Homo sapiens: one gene and its partner. The protein of the gene in region 1 purifies or fractionates together with the protein of each later gene. This does not show direct contact. Each region holds a gene or a part of one and is shown in the gene's direction. Other genes may lie near its edges.

Evidence for each region. Proteins that work in one complex are often made in the same cells at the same time.
Region 2: the proteins of NT5C1A (region 1) and PM20D1 purify together in Homo sapiens (affinity purification with mass spectrometry; one large-scale study listed by BioGRID and IntAct). This does not show direct contact.

The regions. Positions count from the first base shown.
Region 1 is NC_000001.11:39,669,926-39,673,677, reverse strand, and holds the start of NT5C1A (cytosolic 5'-nucleotidase 1A), read left to right. Parts: upstream 1-1,570; 5' UTR 1,571-1,639; coding exon 1,640-1,774; intron 1,775-3,752.
Region 2 is NC_000001.11:205,840,076-205,843,727, reverse strand, and holds part of PM20D1 (N-fatty-acyl-amino acid synthase/hydrolase PM20D1 precursor), read left to right. Parts: coding exon 1-61; intron 62-976; coding exon 977-1,052; intron 1,053-1,512; coding exon 1,513-1,574; intron 1,575-1,838; coding exon 1,839-1,917; intron 1,918-3,404; coding exon 3,405-3,476; intron 3,477-3,652. UniProt on the Homo sapiens protein: Secreted enzyme that regulates the endogenous N-fatty acyl amino acid (NAAs) tissue and circulating levels by functioning as a bidirectional NAA synthase/hydrolase.

The DNA.
Region 1 (3,752 bases):
GGCGTCACCCACATAGCTGCACTCCACTGGGAGCTGAGCTGGGGCTGGGACAGCCAGGATGGCCTCATTCACATGTCTGTCAATTGTGCCTATAGTCACCTGGGCTGTCGCTAGCTTCTTATCCTCCAGGTCCTATCTGTCTCACTACGTGGCCTTTCCAGCAGGATAGTCCAGACTTATTTACATAGTAGCTGGCTCCCAAGAGGGCAAAAATGGAATCTGCAAGGCCTCTTAAGACGTAAGCTTGGAAACCACAGAGCACCACTTCTACTCCATTCAATTGGTCAAAGCAAGTCACAGGGCCAGCTCAGACTGGACTCCACCTCTGAATGGGAGGAATGTCAAAGTCACATTTCCAAAGGACAGGCAGGATGGAAGAGGTTTTTGGGCCATCTCTGGAAACAATCTTCTAGAAGTAAGTCTAAACACACTTCCCCCAATCCTAACATTTTATTATGATTTTTCCCTTCCTCCCACACAAGGGTTGGTTTATTCCTCCCAGGACCTGGTGGAGGCTGAGGGGATCACTCCATTCTGTAGCCCCCTCACCTCCCCAGTCAGAGGCCCTCCTAGCTAAGCCAGTGTTTTCTCCTGCTTCTCCCACCCACCCATGCACACCTCTGAGAGAGGCTGTCTGCTTCCTGGCCTGTACCTTGGGATGGGTGACATTTGTGTCTGCACCCTGAGACTAGTACAGAGCTCTGCATCAAGAGGGACAACACCCTGGAATTCCAGGATGGTAGTTCCGAGGCCCCTCTTCTGCCCTCCCTCTATCCAGCCCCTTCATGGCCTATAACAAATCACCCCAAGCTGGGCAGGTGGGGGCCTAGGAATGCGCGCCCTCTGCTGACCACCAAAGGGCCAGCAAGAATTCGGGTTCAGAGTCCCTGGGAGTCTCTCTGGCCTGGGTCCCCACCCCAGGCCAAGGTCTCGACCTGAGACCACCCGAGCCTGGTCTCAACATGGACTTCAAGGGCCCCTCCTAGGTGGTGTGGAGGAGCTGCCGGGTTGGGCCCTTCACTGAGCTCCCGCTGGGAGCAGGCTTCTGCTAGTGAGAGGAGCCATCCATGCATCACCTCCTGCCCGTCTGCCGGATGGACTGGCCTCGGAGGGAAGGGGACATCGTCAGGATCCCAGGGTCCTAGCTCCTAAAGGAAAGATGGGCAGCTAGCTTTTGGGAGGGGAGCGGCTAGCTTTTCATTTTGTCCTTTGGGGATCACTATCCTGGGGGAAAAAAAAAGTTGTCAGGCCTCTCCTGTCTCCGCGCCCTGCAGCGCCTGCGAAGAACATCATTTTCGCAATCCCCAATCCGCTGCAGCCCACAAACCCAGAGAGCCAGAGAGCCCCCCTCACCACCCAACCGGCTGCTGGCGTGGGTCGGTCGGGGAAGGAGAGCCCAGCTATCCCTCATACCGTACAGCAGTAGCAGCAGCAGCGGCAGCGACACACGGGCGACCGAGAGGGCCAGTGTGACCTCCCCCCGCCCGGCGGGCGGGGAGCCCAGCTCACACGCACAGCCTCCTCGCCGCTGCCCGCCCCCTTCCCTCGCCGGGACTCGCCTCCCTCCTGCAGCCCAGCCCCAGCCACCTCCGCGTCTACGCCGCCGCCTGCTCTGGCCGGGCCGGGTCAGAGCCGGAGCATGGAACCTGGGCAGCCCCGGGAGCCCCAGGAGCCCCGCGAGCCCGGGCCAGGAGCGGAGACCGCTGCGGCCCCGGTCTGGGAGGAAGCCAAGATTTTCTACGACAACCTCGCGCCCAAGAAGAAACCCAAATCGGTAAAAGCAATGCACGGGTATGCGGGGGACGGGGGAAGGGTTACCCCGGAGGAGGGGTCATAAGTCTCTTGGGAAGGGACCCGTGGCGCCCCTCTGGGAGGGGACGCAGCTCCTCAGCCCCAGAATGCGCCCTGCAGCTGGCGCGGGCTCGGGTTTATTTTGGGAGCTCTGCTCTGGTGTATTTTTTTACCGGGACTCGGGTTCCACGCCAGGCTCCCCCTCCCCCATGCTGTCATCAGGGCCCAGCTAGAGGCCCGCAGCCCCAGCCCCTCCCCACTCGGGCCGCCGGGGAGCGCGGATTGCACTTGTTGGCGAAGCTGGTCCGCAGCGCTTCCAGAAGCGCCCCAGGCGCGGGTAACCAGACTTTGGGAACCCGGTTCCTGGCTGTGCGCTCCGGTCTCCGCCATCTGGGCATCGGGCTCCGGACCTGAGACTCTGCGTTTGGGGTCTGGCTCTGGGTCCTGGGCCCTGGGCTGGGGGCAGTGCGCTCCCCGCGTCCTAAGGAAAGGGAGCTGCTCTCTCCAGGCACTGGGATCCACACTCTGCGCTGGGGGGCGATCGGCGCCCCTGGCCGCAGGCTCCCAGCGCTGGACTCTGCCCCCCAGCTCGGGTTCTGCTCCCCTTGCAGTGGGCATTAACATCCCCACGACCCTGTGGTGGTGTCAACCGTCTGGGACCTCACAGAGGAGCTCTCTCCTCTCTGCCATCAAACAAGTTGATGATGCCCTGGTCTGCCCCTGGACCTTGCTGTCTCCAACTTCCCAGATCTCAGAGCTTGAGGAGAAAACCGAGAATAGAGGTTGGCCCACAGCGGTCCTCCAAAGAGCTCCAGCTTGATCTTAAAGCAATTTGCTGCTTCCCTCCAAGAACCCTTCCCCAACAGGTCCACCCTATCAGCAATCATTCAATTAGCACCTCCAAGCTCTGCTCAAGAGTGGGGATTGAAGAATTAAATAACCTGAGTCCCTGCCTCAGGAGCTCACTGCACAATGATGGAGGCTCCAGAGATGAGAGCCTAGGGGAGTTGGGGGGGGAGTAGAGTAGTGACATCACACTGGGGAAAGCTTTGTAGAAGTGGCACGTATCCTGATCTTAAAGCCTGAGTAGGTGGAGTTTCCCAGGGAGAGGGAAACAGGACAGGCAAAAGTCATGCAGATGTCTCTGAAGCTCAGGACTGTGTTCCTGAATAAGTACTGAATGAAGAATGCAGGATTGTTGGAAGAAGAGCTGGAGGGATGTGGAAGAGCCCACAGAGGGCCTTGGGGATCATGTTAAGGAGTCTGGACCTTACTCAAGGGGGTCAGGGATTTCCAAACTAGCTTCCCCAAGCCCCATGTTTCAGGGAGTCTGCACACATGTGAATCCAATTTATTTTCTTTCTTCTTCGGACTATGTTTTAAACAATTAAAAATGTGTAATAAAACCCAACTCACTCTAATGTATTAGGTGGACATTTTAGCAGCTTGAAGGCCACTAGCTTGTGCTGCAGATTTTTTTAAAGCAAAGCTCAGAATAAGGCTTCCCCTGTGATCTGTTCCATCAAAGAGCGTCTTGAGATTGTAAGGCCTTTAGTTTAAAACAAACCAAAACAAAAAACCTTTTAGCATTTCCAACCACTTATTGGTCTGAATCAGGACTTTCTCAATACTGTACAAATACAAACACAGCAACAACTTGGCCGGATGCTGAAGCTTAAGTCTGCACTGGCATTCTAGCCGCTAGTTTCAAATTTGTTGTCATGCAAACAACTGTGTTGTTTTCATTGGTTGACTTTATAATAAATAAATAAATAAATGTAATGCATTTGAATCTGTAAAATAAATAAACACCAATTATATATGTTATATCTGGTACCATATGGTATGAGATATATGGTAATATCTGGCTTACATATTGAATTCAAAGTTTATTTGAATTCATTTAAATAAAAGGTCAACCTACATTTAAACAAACATATGAATACCATTATGGAGCTATT
Region 2 (3,652 bases), about 170 Mb from region 1:
GCCACTCTTCAGCTCCTCCAAAGGAGACAAGCATTGGCATCCTTGCAGCTGCTGTCAGCCGGTAAGCAACTCCTGGCCCTGTTCCCATGCCAGACTTGAGATGGAAGCCCTGGCACTTTCCCACTTTAAATTTGAGGAGGCTAAGCTTCCTGCCCTAAAGTTGGGCTGGGAAACTATGCTATAAAAAATTGACACTAGAGGAAGAACAGAAGGGGAAGCCCAGGACAGACTAAAGATCCAGGTGATTAATACAACAGGTGTAAATAAAGAGTTATCTCAGCATGGCTCACAGATACCAGGCTGGGGTCATCTCAAATGGAGTGAGAATTCCTTCCAAGGTGGGGGTTGGGGGAGCCACAGGAGAGACAGAGCCACCAGTATCCTGCAAGGGCTGGAGTCAGAAGAGGATCTGTCAGTATATCCATATGGAAAGCAAGGACCTACAGGCAGAAGCTAGGTCAGGCAGCTAGAGTAGTCCAGAGTCCAGACATTTAGAATCACAAATTGGCAATGACTGGTAGAGCTGTCGAAATTCTCCACCTGTCCTGGCAGGAGGACAAAAATAAATAAGAGTTGCTGGCTATGAATGAGGACAGCAGAATCTGTAACAGCAGAGCTTACTCCTGGCTGGGTTTTCTTAGCAAAGTGGGAAGGAGTGCTATATTCATTCAAATTGTCAGGAGACTGACAATTCTGCTGTAGTATGGGATGGGCTATGAGAGTGGACACACAGGATTCTAGAGAACAGCAGAGGGAGGAAAGAAGGACCCTAATGCAGACTTGGTAGACAGGGAAAGCTCCTGGGGATGTTTTGAGATCTTCAGAATGTTGAGTTGGTGGAGGTGGGAGGGAGGTGAATGAGAGACCTCTTGGCCAGGAGCGTTGAAACTTCCTCCTATCTCCCTTCTTCTCCTCTTCAAGCCACTGATCTTTGGCTGGGGTTCGCTAAGTCTTGAGGACTCTGTTTCTCTTCCAGATTGGAGCAGACACCAATGCCTATCATATTTGGAAGCGGGACAGTGGTGACTGTATTGCAGCAACTGGCAAATGAGGTATGGGAAGAAGTATCACATACTCCTAATCAGCTAGGAACAAAAGACGGACAGAAAAGTAACCTTTAGAGTAAGAAAAGGACCCTAGTACTGTCCAGCACTCTGCCTATTCTCACCTATTCCCAGCCAGTGGCTGAGCCAAGACACAGGGATCTGGCTTGTTCTCTACGGCTGTTAGTGTGTTTCTGAGACCCTAAGACCTAATCTACCCTTTGGGAGCTGGTTCCCACTTATCCTTGAGGTTGCTAAGCAATTGTTCTAACCAACCAGATAAGCCCAGCCAGACAGTAATTGCCTCCCTATTCCTGATCCTCTAGCAGGGATTGAGCTAACTGAATTTAGCAGCACTCCTGACTGCTAAGGGCCCCTGAGGCAGCTCTAAAGTAGAGAGAGACTCAGGTCTCAGAGACCCAGGCTAAACTAGAGGTGACCCTGTGGTGCTGACCTTGTTCTTTCCCAGTTTCCCTTCCCTGTCAATATAATCCTGAGCAACCCATGGCTATTTGAACCACTTATAAGCAGGTAAAGTATTATCTTTCCTTTTTTCACATCCCTCACCTCAAACCTACCCACCCCCCAGGCCCCTCTCCTTGGCTTAACTGGGCCTGACTAATCATCCCTCAGCCACCAGATACTGCATCTCTAAGTGTGTATATTTAAGACATCTCTAAGACGTCTCTCTCAGTCTTAAAGATCCCCAAGGTTCAGGAAAGTGGGTAATGTTTCCGCCCTTTCCTTCACCCCATTGGTTCTTTCTAACATCTGACCTTGGTCCTTTTGTTTTAGGTTTATGGAGAGAAATCCCTTAACCAATGCAATAATCAGGACCACCACGGCACTCACCATATTCAAAGCAGGGGTCAAGGTAACATCCCTGGTTCCTCCCCATATAGCTTTTCCCTACCGCCCTCCACTCCTCCCTTCCTTGAATCTATCTACTGGCTCTTCCTTCCTTCTGTGTGTGTCAGCTGGATCCAAGCCTAGCCACGCAAAGACATAGGCCTTTCTGAAATCTTGAAGGGAGTTAGACCATTCTTGTAACTGCCAGTACCACCAGCACAACTTCAGGGGGCACCATTCACCTAGAGTACAATGTGACCTTGAAGCACTCTAGTAATCGGGTATATAAGTGAATGATGCCTCTGAATTAATTCCTGGCATAACTCACTGGACCGTCCAGTGTGTCAGCTGTAGTGTTCATCAGAATAATAGCACTGTGTCCTGACATTTGAATGGTGTTTTCATCTCCCCAGGATACTTTGTTACTCCATCTGAGCCTTCTAAGAGTCCTATGAGTATTGCCCCAATACCCAGTTGAGAAAACAGAGGCACAAAGAGGTTGCAACAGCTAATTTGCAACAGCCCAGCTCTGTCCCTGACCACTTAGTGCTTTTTTGCACCATACGAGTTCAAAGAAAGATATGCACTTGGGGAGTCTCCCGGCCTCCAAGGAACAATCCCTCCATAGCCTAACTCTTTTCTCCAGTTAGTCCTGGATTCCTCCTGGTCAGGCAAAAAAGTCAGATTTTACAACTGGACCTGGGAAACCACCAATCCCTGCTAGAAGGTCGGGAATGGGGAGGCAATTACTGCCTGACTGGCTTATCTGATTGGTTAGAACAATTGCTCAGCAGCCTCAAGGATAAGAGGGAACCAGCTCCCAAAGGTTATGTTAGGTCTTAGGGTCTCAGAAACATACTAACAGCCCTAGAGAACAAGCCAGATCCCTCTGTCTTGGCTCAGTCACTGGCTGGGAATAGGTGAGAACAGGCAGAGCACTGGCCAGCACTAGGGTCCTTTTCTTACTCTGAAGGTTACTTTTCTGTCACTCTTTTGTTCCTGCCTGACCAGGAATATGTGAGGAGTATGTGTTCTTCTCATCCCCCTCAAGGATCAAACCTGATGTGAGCCCCGTGCTATGCCATGATGGGGGTCAACAGAGGCTCTGGCTGCCCCATCGTGAGTAAGCACTAATGTTAACAGCTGCAGAAATGTCCTGGGTGTGCTGGGAAAGAAAGTGCACACAGAAGGCTTCTAATAGCACAGCATGGGGCCAAAACAGAGATATCTGGGTGATCAGAGAAAGCAGCCTTGCTCTGAACATCTCTGTGACCCCCTGCAGCACCAAGAAGCAGGAAGGTCTGGCTTAAAGCAGAGACACCCCTTCAGCTCTGAATATAACATGTCACTTAGTTCAGAGAAGACAAGAGGCAGACTAGAAAAGCTAAGCCTTGGGTCCTTAAGTCAAATCAGCCAACTCTGCCTGAGCTGAGGAAATTAGCATTTCCTGGGCAGGCAGATGTAGAAGATTTGAGGTTGACTCAAGCCAGGGTTTTGTGCTTCTCTCTCTAGTTCAATGTCATCCCCCCAGTGGCCCAGGCCACAGTCAACTTCCGGATTCACCCTGGACAGACAGTCCAAGAGGTATGTACCATATGTTCCAGACAACAACTCATGCAGCATCAGGGAGATGTGGCCCTCAGGGCCCGGGTTTAACTACAGTCCTAGGGCTGGTCCAGTGTCCCATTTATTCAACCAACATTTTTCAAAGACAACCTATGCACCGGATACTTCATTAGGATTGGAGATCCTGGGTTTGG